Linked DNA regions of Homo sapiens. The protein of the gene in region 2 interacts with the protein of the main gene of each other region in a pairwise test. Each region holds a gene or a part of one and is shown on either strand. Other genes may lie near its edges.

Region 1 (3,812 bases), on a different chromosome or scaffold from region 2:
AAAAAAGGGAAAAAGTCCAAACTAAAGGCAAACTTTAAATTAAACAAAATAGTGAACGAATCAATAAAAGTCTGGCCACCCCCAGGGTGAACTAAGGCATGGATGTCACCTCTTCTTGAGGCTCCTCCTGGCCTCTTGAATTCATTCTACACTCTGCCTCCAAATCAGTGGGTCTAGAACTCTGATTTCTTGCAGAAGCTCTTGAGGTCTCACTGCTGCCTATGGGAGCACCCAAGCATCTTCTCCATCAGCCCCACCACCACCCGGTCCCAACTCCTCCCAGCTCTCCCTCCTGGCATGTCTTGTCACTCCCTGGGACATGCATTCTATCACTCTCCAGGTACTCCAGCCACCCCCTTCCCCCACTCAAGCCCCCAACCCCAGGTCCTTCAGAGGCTAACCTCCCTACCAGAGAGACTCCCCCGCACCTTCCTTCCCTACGTCCCTATACAACAGCATCTGCAGTAAGATGTAAGTCATGGCTTAATGCAGGGACCACTCCCCCTTCACGACACACAGCGCTTCATAAACAGCAAGTGACTAATAGTGACTAACCAATGGAATCACCAAAGCAAAGATGGCTATAAACAGCATAATGTATTATCTCCTCTATAGAGCAGTGTCTCCTTCTTTTTTTTTTTTTTTTTTTTTTTTTTTTGAGATGGAATCTCGCTCTGTGGCCCAGGCTGGAATGCAGTGGCACAATCTTGGCGGCTCCCTGCAACCTCTGCCTCCCGGGTTCAAGCAATTCTCCTGCCTCAGCCTCCTGAGTAGCTGGGATTACAGGCACCCGCCACCACATCCAGCTAATTTTTGTATTTTTAGTAGAGACAGGGTTTGGCCATGTTGGCCAGGCTAGTCTCAAACTCCTGGCCTCAAGTGATCCGCCCACCTTGGCCTCCCCAAGTGCGGGGATTATAGGAATGAGCCACCGTGCCCAGCCCAGAGTCTCATTTTAATAGGGAGGTTCAGGCCCTTAATCCAAAGATGGGAGTAACAAAGAGTCAATCAGCCCCCAAGGGGACCAGACAGGCTAGAAGAGCCCCTGCCATCCACACCTCACAGCATGGGGCCTGCACTACCTCAAGTCAGCTCGGGCTGATGCTCTCAGCCCCCAGGAGGTAAAGTTACACTCTGGCTGTGTCTGGCCCCAAGTAGTTCAAGGGATGCTAAACTAACAGCTTTGTTAACTGTTACCCTCCAAAAACACATAGACACACACATATTTCATATCCATCCTCTTGGGGAGGTGGAGAAAAAAGAATGCTGAAAAGTACAATTAGGCATTGTCTTTGCTCCACTCCGTGTGGCAGTATCTAAAAAATTACACCCTCTGGCAATGAAATTCTTACAAGTACTGTAAACAAACAAGTCTAAAGGCCCAGCAGTAATACAATCTGCCTTTTTAACAGAGTACACAATTATAGTTAAGATACCTTATTGAGTTCTTCAATTGCCTGTACCAGGTTGAATAATGGCCTAATCTCTGGATCATGTGACTTTATTTGGAAAAAGGGTCTTTGCAGAAGTTATTAAGTGAAGAATTCTGAGATGAGATTAGCCTAGATTACCTGGGTAGGCCCTAAATGTCCTCATAAGTGTCCTTATAAAATAGAGAAAGAAGGAGTTTTCACACAAATAAGCAGAGGGGGCAGCCACAGGAGGAAGGAGGCAGACATTGGGGTGAGGGGCGACAAGCCAAGGAATGTTGGCTGCCACTGGAAGCCAGAAGAGGCAGGGAAGGATCCTCCCCTAGAGTCTCTGGAGGGAGCGTGGCCCTGCCAATACTTTTTAAGACTTCTGGCCTCCAGAACTGTGAGAGAATCAATTTGTTACTTTAAGCCACCAGAGTGGTAATTTGTTATAGCAGCCACAAGGAACAAATAGCTTCCCTGAAAATATAAGGAATCTATCTGATGCCCTTTGGGACGCATTTCCAGGCATGGAGAGACCCTCCTTGGCAGTGGGGAATGACGCCACCTTTCACCGGCAGCCTCTCTCTCCTCCTCACTCTAGCCCTTCAGCGTAGTCTCAGGAGCCTCTGACAATTCCTCATTGACTCCACCGTCCCCTCTGCTCCCGCACGTCCATGAGACCCACGGAGAGCAGAGTCTTCACGAACTCCCTCTCAGGCTCCACTCCCAGGGCTGAACCAGCCCATATCAGGGTTTTGCACCTCCATGAGCTATGTCAAAATAGGACCCTATGAAGCTCCACAATTGGTTAGCAAGTGTCTACACTGCAGACCACTCTGAACAGAAAGGACAGCCCAGGTGGCTCTTTCCATGAATCTAGACCTCATTATCACAGCCGTACGATTACAGTCATCCTAACAATTGGTGTTGGTTCCCACATGCCAGGCTTAAGGGTGCATGCTAGGCTTTTCTTTAGGCAGTTCTTCCTGTACCTTCCAACTTCTGTGCAAATGCAGTATTTCCAAGCATTTCTCCCCACTCTCTCACTTCTTGCTCTTTCTCTAGCCCATCCTCCTCCCTTTCCTGAAGGTGAAAGGACAAGGCAATGAGGTGATCTATGGTGCTGGGGAAATACCCCCTGGAAACCCCATCCAGCCCCTCATCCTCATACCACTCATTCCAGCCCCTCCTCCTCATACCGCTCAGTCCAGCCCCTCAACCTCATACCGCTCAGTCCAGCCCCTCCTCCTCATACCGCTCAGTCCAGCCCCTCATCCTCATACCGCTCAGTCCAGCCCCTCCTCCTCATACCGCTCAGTCCAGCCCCTCATCCTCATACCGCTCAGTCCAGCCCCTCCTCCTCATACCGCTCAGTCCAGCCCCTCCTCCTCATACCGCTCAGTCCAGCCCCTCCTCCTCATACCGCTCAGTCCAGCCCCTCAACCTCATACCACTCAGTCCAGCCCAGGCCTTGGGCCGTCGTACCAAGGCCTTCCGTGAAGCAGGCCCAGTGTGGTAAGTCGAAAAATGGCCTCCCAAAGATAGGCCCACATCCTAATCCCTGGAACCTGAAAATGTCATCTTTAGGGGGATGGGACTCTGCAGACATGATGAAGTTAATGGTCTTCAGATGGGGAGGCTGTCCTGGATTAACTGGGTGAGTCCTAAATGCCATCAAAAATGTCTTTAAAAGACGGAGGGGATCAGATGGACAAGCAGAGAAGAAAGCAAAGTGAAGACGGAGACAAGAGAATAACATGGCCACAAGCCCAGGAGATGCCCATGGCAGCCACCAGGGGCTGGGAGAAGAAGCAAAGTCCAAGTCTCCCCTTAGGTCTCTGGAGGAAGCGTGGCCCTACTGACACCTTGATCTCCAATGAGACTGATTTTGGACTTCCAGCCTCCAGACTGTGAGGGAATCACTTTCTGTTGTTTTAAGCCACCAAGTTTGTGGTCATTTGTTACAGCAGCTGCAGGAAACTAACACCCCTGGTGTGTGCCCTACCATCATCTGACACCTTGATTCCCAAGTTCTGCCATCAAGGTTCCCTCCATGAAAACCCTGAGCCCTTAAGCTACCTCACCTTGGAGAAGGTTTCCTATTAAGCTCCCTCTCAATTTTCAAATACCAGCTCATTATCAGCTTGTTTTCATCCACCCCCTGACTTACAAGCTCCATACTTACAAGTTGATAATACTGAAATGGAATGCCGTTCTTGATTACACAAAACCATTTAATCGACTTCATCTATAACAACTGAAATGGGGAAAAAAAATGAATGGGAAATTAAGGAAAAGTCAATCAGTGATCAGCAAAGGGAGACATCTAATTCAATTTGACAGTAATCAGAGGTTTGCAGGCAAAACAAAGCTAACACTGACTCTAACTGGGTAAAG
Region 2 (4,501 bases):
TCAGTCACCCCTTGCAATGGCCAACTCAATAGCACATATTGGTATTAATTCTCCTTCCTTCCCTGTTCATTTCTGGATAAATCCCTCACCTATCAACCTCATCTGAGGCTCTGCTATCAGGGAACCCAGATTAAAATATCCAACGACTAGGTTTCAGCTCCTGATCTTCTCTGAACAAATGCTTGAATACATTTCTTTACACGAATACACACACACACATGCACATATATAACGCACATATGTACACAGACTAGGAATAAGAAATAATATACCAGCACAACGGAATCTAAATCCAAACAAAAAAATTAACATTTCTCCCCAAGCCCAAAGTCTTCAGAAAACTACCTCTGCTAAAGCATACCCCCAATTTTCACTGCTGAACAGAAATGTTTTGTTCTCAGGATAAAACATACATTCAGGTGACTTCAAGGTTTTCCCTAAGGGCCAAGGGTGAGGATTTGCTTTATATTTGCATAACTCAAAGGCCCTAGAGATGGTTTTCCCAATCTGCCCAACTGTGAAAGTCAAGCCTTCACTTCCTGGATGACTGAAAAGTGATCACAGATTTTTAAATGGCCATTTTATTCTCCAGCTTCTTGACTTCAAGGTTTCAGAAAATCTTGGGGTGTCTCATTTCAACCCGGTCACTCTTAGGCAGATTATATTTTACATGATTCAGTTAAACTCCAAAATTACTCTTCTAGTGGGGCGAGGTGCCTCATGATCCATGAGAGGATTCACACTGGGAAAAAGGGAGAAAAAGGAACCAAGAGTACAGCCAGCTGTCACTTAAGTAGGGAAAGCTGCCTTATATTCCACTGACCAGATTGCAATCACAGAGCCACAGCCAACTGCAAGGAATGCTAGGGAACGTAGCCTTTATTCCGGGTGGTTTTGTGCCTGGGGAAAGATTTTAGAAGAGTAGAAGGGTGCCTTAGAACTAGCGGTTTCTGCTACTGCCATCCACAGCATACCCTCTCCAACTCCAGCCCGAATCTGAAACTCTAGTACGGAACAGAGTACCTTCAGCCCTGTCCAGGAACAAACTCTGGGAGGACAAACTTTCTGGAAGCACAAATTGAGAACTCACTTTTCAGTCAGGGCTCAAGAAGGAGTGGCCGGCGAAAAATCTCCAAGCCAATTTCTTTCTTTTTTTTTTTTTCTGAGACGGAGTCTCGCTCTGTCGCCCAGGCTGGAGTGCAGTGGCGCGATCTTGGCTCATTGCAAGCCCTGCCTCCCGGGTTCACGCCATTCTCCTGCCTCAGCCTCCCGAGTAGCTGGGACAACAGGCGCCCGCCACCACTCCCGGCTAATTTTTTTTTTTTTTTTTTTTTTGTATTTTTAGTAGAGACGGGGTTTCACCGTGTTAGCTAGGATGGTCTCGATCTTCTGACCTCGTGATCCGCCCGCCTCGGCCTCCCAAAGTGCTGGGATTACAGGCGTCAGCCACCGAGCCCGGCCTCCAAGCCAATTTCTGACAAGCATCTGCAGGGTACCGGTCGGAGGAGTCCCGTAGTCATGGAAACCCCTCTGAGCCCCAGTCCGGTCTAAAAAAGGTACTTTCGGAACTAGAGCGCGCGGAACGGGAGGATGTCCCGGAAGTATTTCCCTGGGATCACCCCACCCACCCCCCCCGCCCGTAGAAAAGATGGCTGCTGTGCAAGTTGTCGGTTCGTGGCCTTCCGTGCAGCCGCGGGAGGCACCGCGGGAAGCAATCCCTGAGCGAGGCAATGGGTTTCGCCTCTTGTCTGCCAGGCTCTGCGCCCTGCGCCCGGATGACAGCAGCTCCGCCCGCACCGAGATCCACCTGCTCTTCGATCAGCTCATCTCCGAGAACTACAGCGAGGGCAGTGGCGTGGCCCCGGAGGTAGGCGGCGCGCCCTGCTGGCCCCGGCCCCGGCCCCACCCCTCCGGGAACCCAGCTGGTGGCCTCTGCCTGCCTTTCCCTGATCTTCCCACTCTCGCGCCTGATGATTTAGTTTCAGGATGGCGTGCCCCCTCCAACCTTGGCACATTCTTAGTTCTCCATTTGGAAGACCCTGCAGTGCTTGGCACGCTCGAGTCATTCAAAACCCAACTTGACGACTCCTGCTCTGATAATGCCTCGGGTTTCCTCTCTGATACCAACTTTCCATCCGCCCGCACCCTCCTTCACTCCCTCTCTGTGCACCCAGAACACTTGGTTGACAAAATGCATTACTACTGTTTATTGCGTACATGGTACACGGACCACGTGGGAATCTTAGAACTTGCGTAGTATTAGGGCTTGTTTGCTAATGAAAATACTGAAGCTCGTAAAAATACAGTATACAAAACTCTGCCACAAAGCCCCTATGTTTTCTGTTCCTACACACTAGCTCCTCCCCTCTGCCGTCTTTCTGAGTAATCTTACACACATCAGGCCTTAAATTAATGAATTCTCTGAACTGTTGACACCATGGCCTTCTGGCCCTACGTAGGAAAGAGGGAAGTGGTGCAAGTTGCCTGCTTGCACAGGCATCTCAAACTAGACAGTTCCTAAAGATGAAATTCATTAGCTCCAAACACGCATTCCCGTCCCCAGTCCATCCCACCTTCCAACACACATGCATCATCCACCAAGTCACACCAGACACAAACACTGGTTCTTCCCTCCTTCATCCCAGATCCTGACCAACTCAGGTATTTCAGAATGTGTCTCATATATATTTCTCAGTTCATCCCCTCCTGTCTATTCCCATAGCGAGTGCCTTAGACCTCAGGCAAGGCGACTTATGCCTGGACTGTTCGCTGATCCCCTCTGACTGATCTCCTGCCTCCTGTCTAGCTCCTCTCCAAGCCAGTCATTCCTCCAATGCCAGAATGATCTTTTCTTTAGGAGGAAAAAAAATTGTTCATAAACTTTAAAATCTGCTTTGGAAAAGTCTTCAATACGTATTGGTAAATGGTTGAAGCAAGTTGCAGGACAATTCATACAGAATGAGATCAGTATGAAGCTGGAGGAGGGATTTTAAAATATGTGTGTTTATATATGCAAAGTAAAAGGTCTGAAAGAATTGACTACAGAATAATAGTGTATGTCATTAGGAAGCAGAGTGAGATTAAGGCAGTAGTCGGGGACTTTTGCTGTATTTGTGTAATTGGATACTTTTGCAACAAAACTTCCATTCTCTCCTGTTACTCCCCCTTTTGTTCCTGTGTGCAGCCATTTAAAACTTGCTGTTCTTCAGGCACCTACTAGTGTTTCACACCTCCAGGTTTTTGCATACTCTGTCCACTTTGCTTGCAGTGTTTTTTGATGCCCTATCTGGCAAATTTCTCCTCATCCTTCAAATCATTCCAGATTCTGCTTTACAGTCACCTCCACAAGGCCTCCCTAATTACTGTTTCTGGACAGAGTTTGTACTTTATTCTTTCAGCACTTGATTCACCTTATTTTAATTATTTGTTGTGTTTCTTTCTCTCTCACTAGTTTGTGAGCTCTTTGAGGTTCAGGAACATGTTTGTTTTACCTTTGGAGCCCAAAGACCTAGCACACTATGACACATAGTAGGTGCTCAGAACCTTGTCATTCTATAAACATCGATGGATGAAGAGTGTGACTTGCAAATAGGTCCCTCTTTTTTTTTTTTTTTTTTTAAGAATTCCCTAATTATGCATAAAATCCATAGAAGTGTTAGGTCTGATTTTTCCCAATGGCATTGAAAATCTGGTTCACTTACCTTTTGATATTTTTAGCTTCAGTTTGTGCTTTCATACCCTAGAAGCCTTTTTCTGGTTATTTAATTATACTGTCTTTACATATAGAGAGCACAGAGTCTTCAGCCTGACCAAAACCGTACTGATTCTTTTCCTTTTTTTTTCTTTTTTCTTTTTTTTAAGAGACAAGGTCTCACTCTGTCATCCAGACTGGAGTGCAGCAGCAAGATCATAGCTCACTGTGACCTAAAACTCCTGGGCTCAAGCCATCCTCCCACCTCAGCCTCCCAAGAAGCTGGGACTACATACCACCATATCCAGCTAATTTTTTTAAAAAAGTTTTTTCTGTAGAGATGGAGTCTCACTATGTTGCCCAAGCTGGTCTTGGACTCCTGGGCTCAAGCAGTCCTCCCGCTTTGACCTCCGGAAGAACTGGGATTAGGTGTGAGCCACTGTGCCTGGCTTTTTCCTTCTTTTTTAGCACATGCTGTTTTTGTGCTATCACTTCATTTTTTTCCTTCCTGCCTCACATTTTCTTTCCCCATTTTGAATGTGAATATTTACTTTTATTTTCCCATTTGGCTGTGTTTTGAGGATCTTCACTTGACTAATAAGTATTTTACCTCTTATCTTTTTTTTTTTGGTAGGACGTTAGTGCTCTTCTTGTCCAGGCTTGCCGACTGGTACCTCTTAATCAGAATCATCTTGTCAGCAAAGTGAGCCAGCTTATCCACCATTTACTTAACAGATTACAGGTAATCATGTATGTAACTCTAGAATTCAGATCATGAACTTTGAGAGTAAGTAAATACCTTTGAAATAC

The links.
Region 1: the proteins of HEATR6 (region 2) and HUNK interact in a two-hybrid assay, tested with the Homo sapiens proteins (one large-scale study listed by BioGRID and IntAct).

What each region holds. Positions count from the first base shown.
Region 1 is NC_000021.9:31,918,001-31,921,812, reverse strand, and holds part of HUNK (hormonally up-regulated neu tumor-associated kinase), read right to left. Parts: intron 1-3,812.
Region 2 is NC_000017.11:60,076,062-60,080,562, reverse strand, and holds the start of HEATR6 (HEAT repeat-containing protein 6), read left to right. Parts: upstream 1-1,641; 5' UTR 1,642-1,648; coding exon 1,649-1,867; intron 1,868-4,325; coding exon 4,326-4,433; intron 4,434-4,501. UniProt on the Homo sapiens protein: Amplification-dependent oncogene.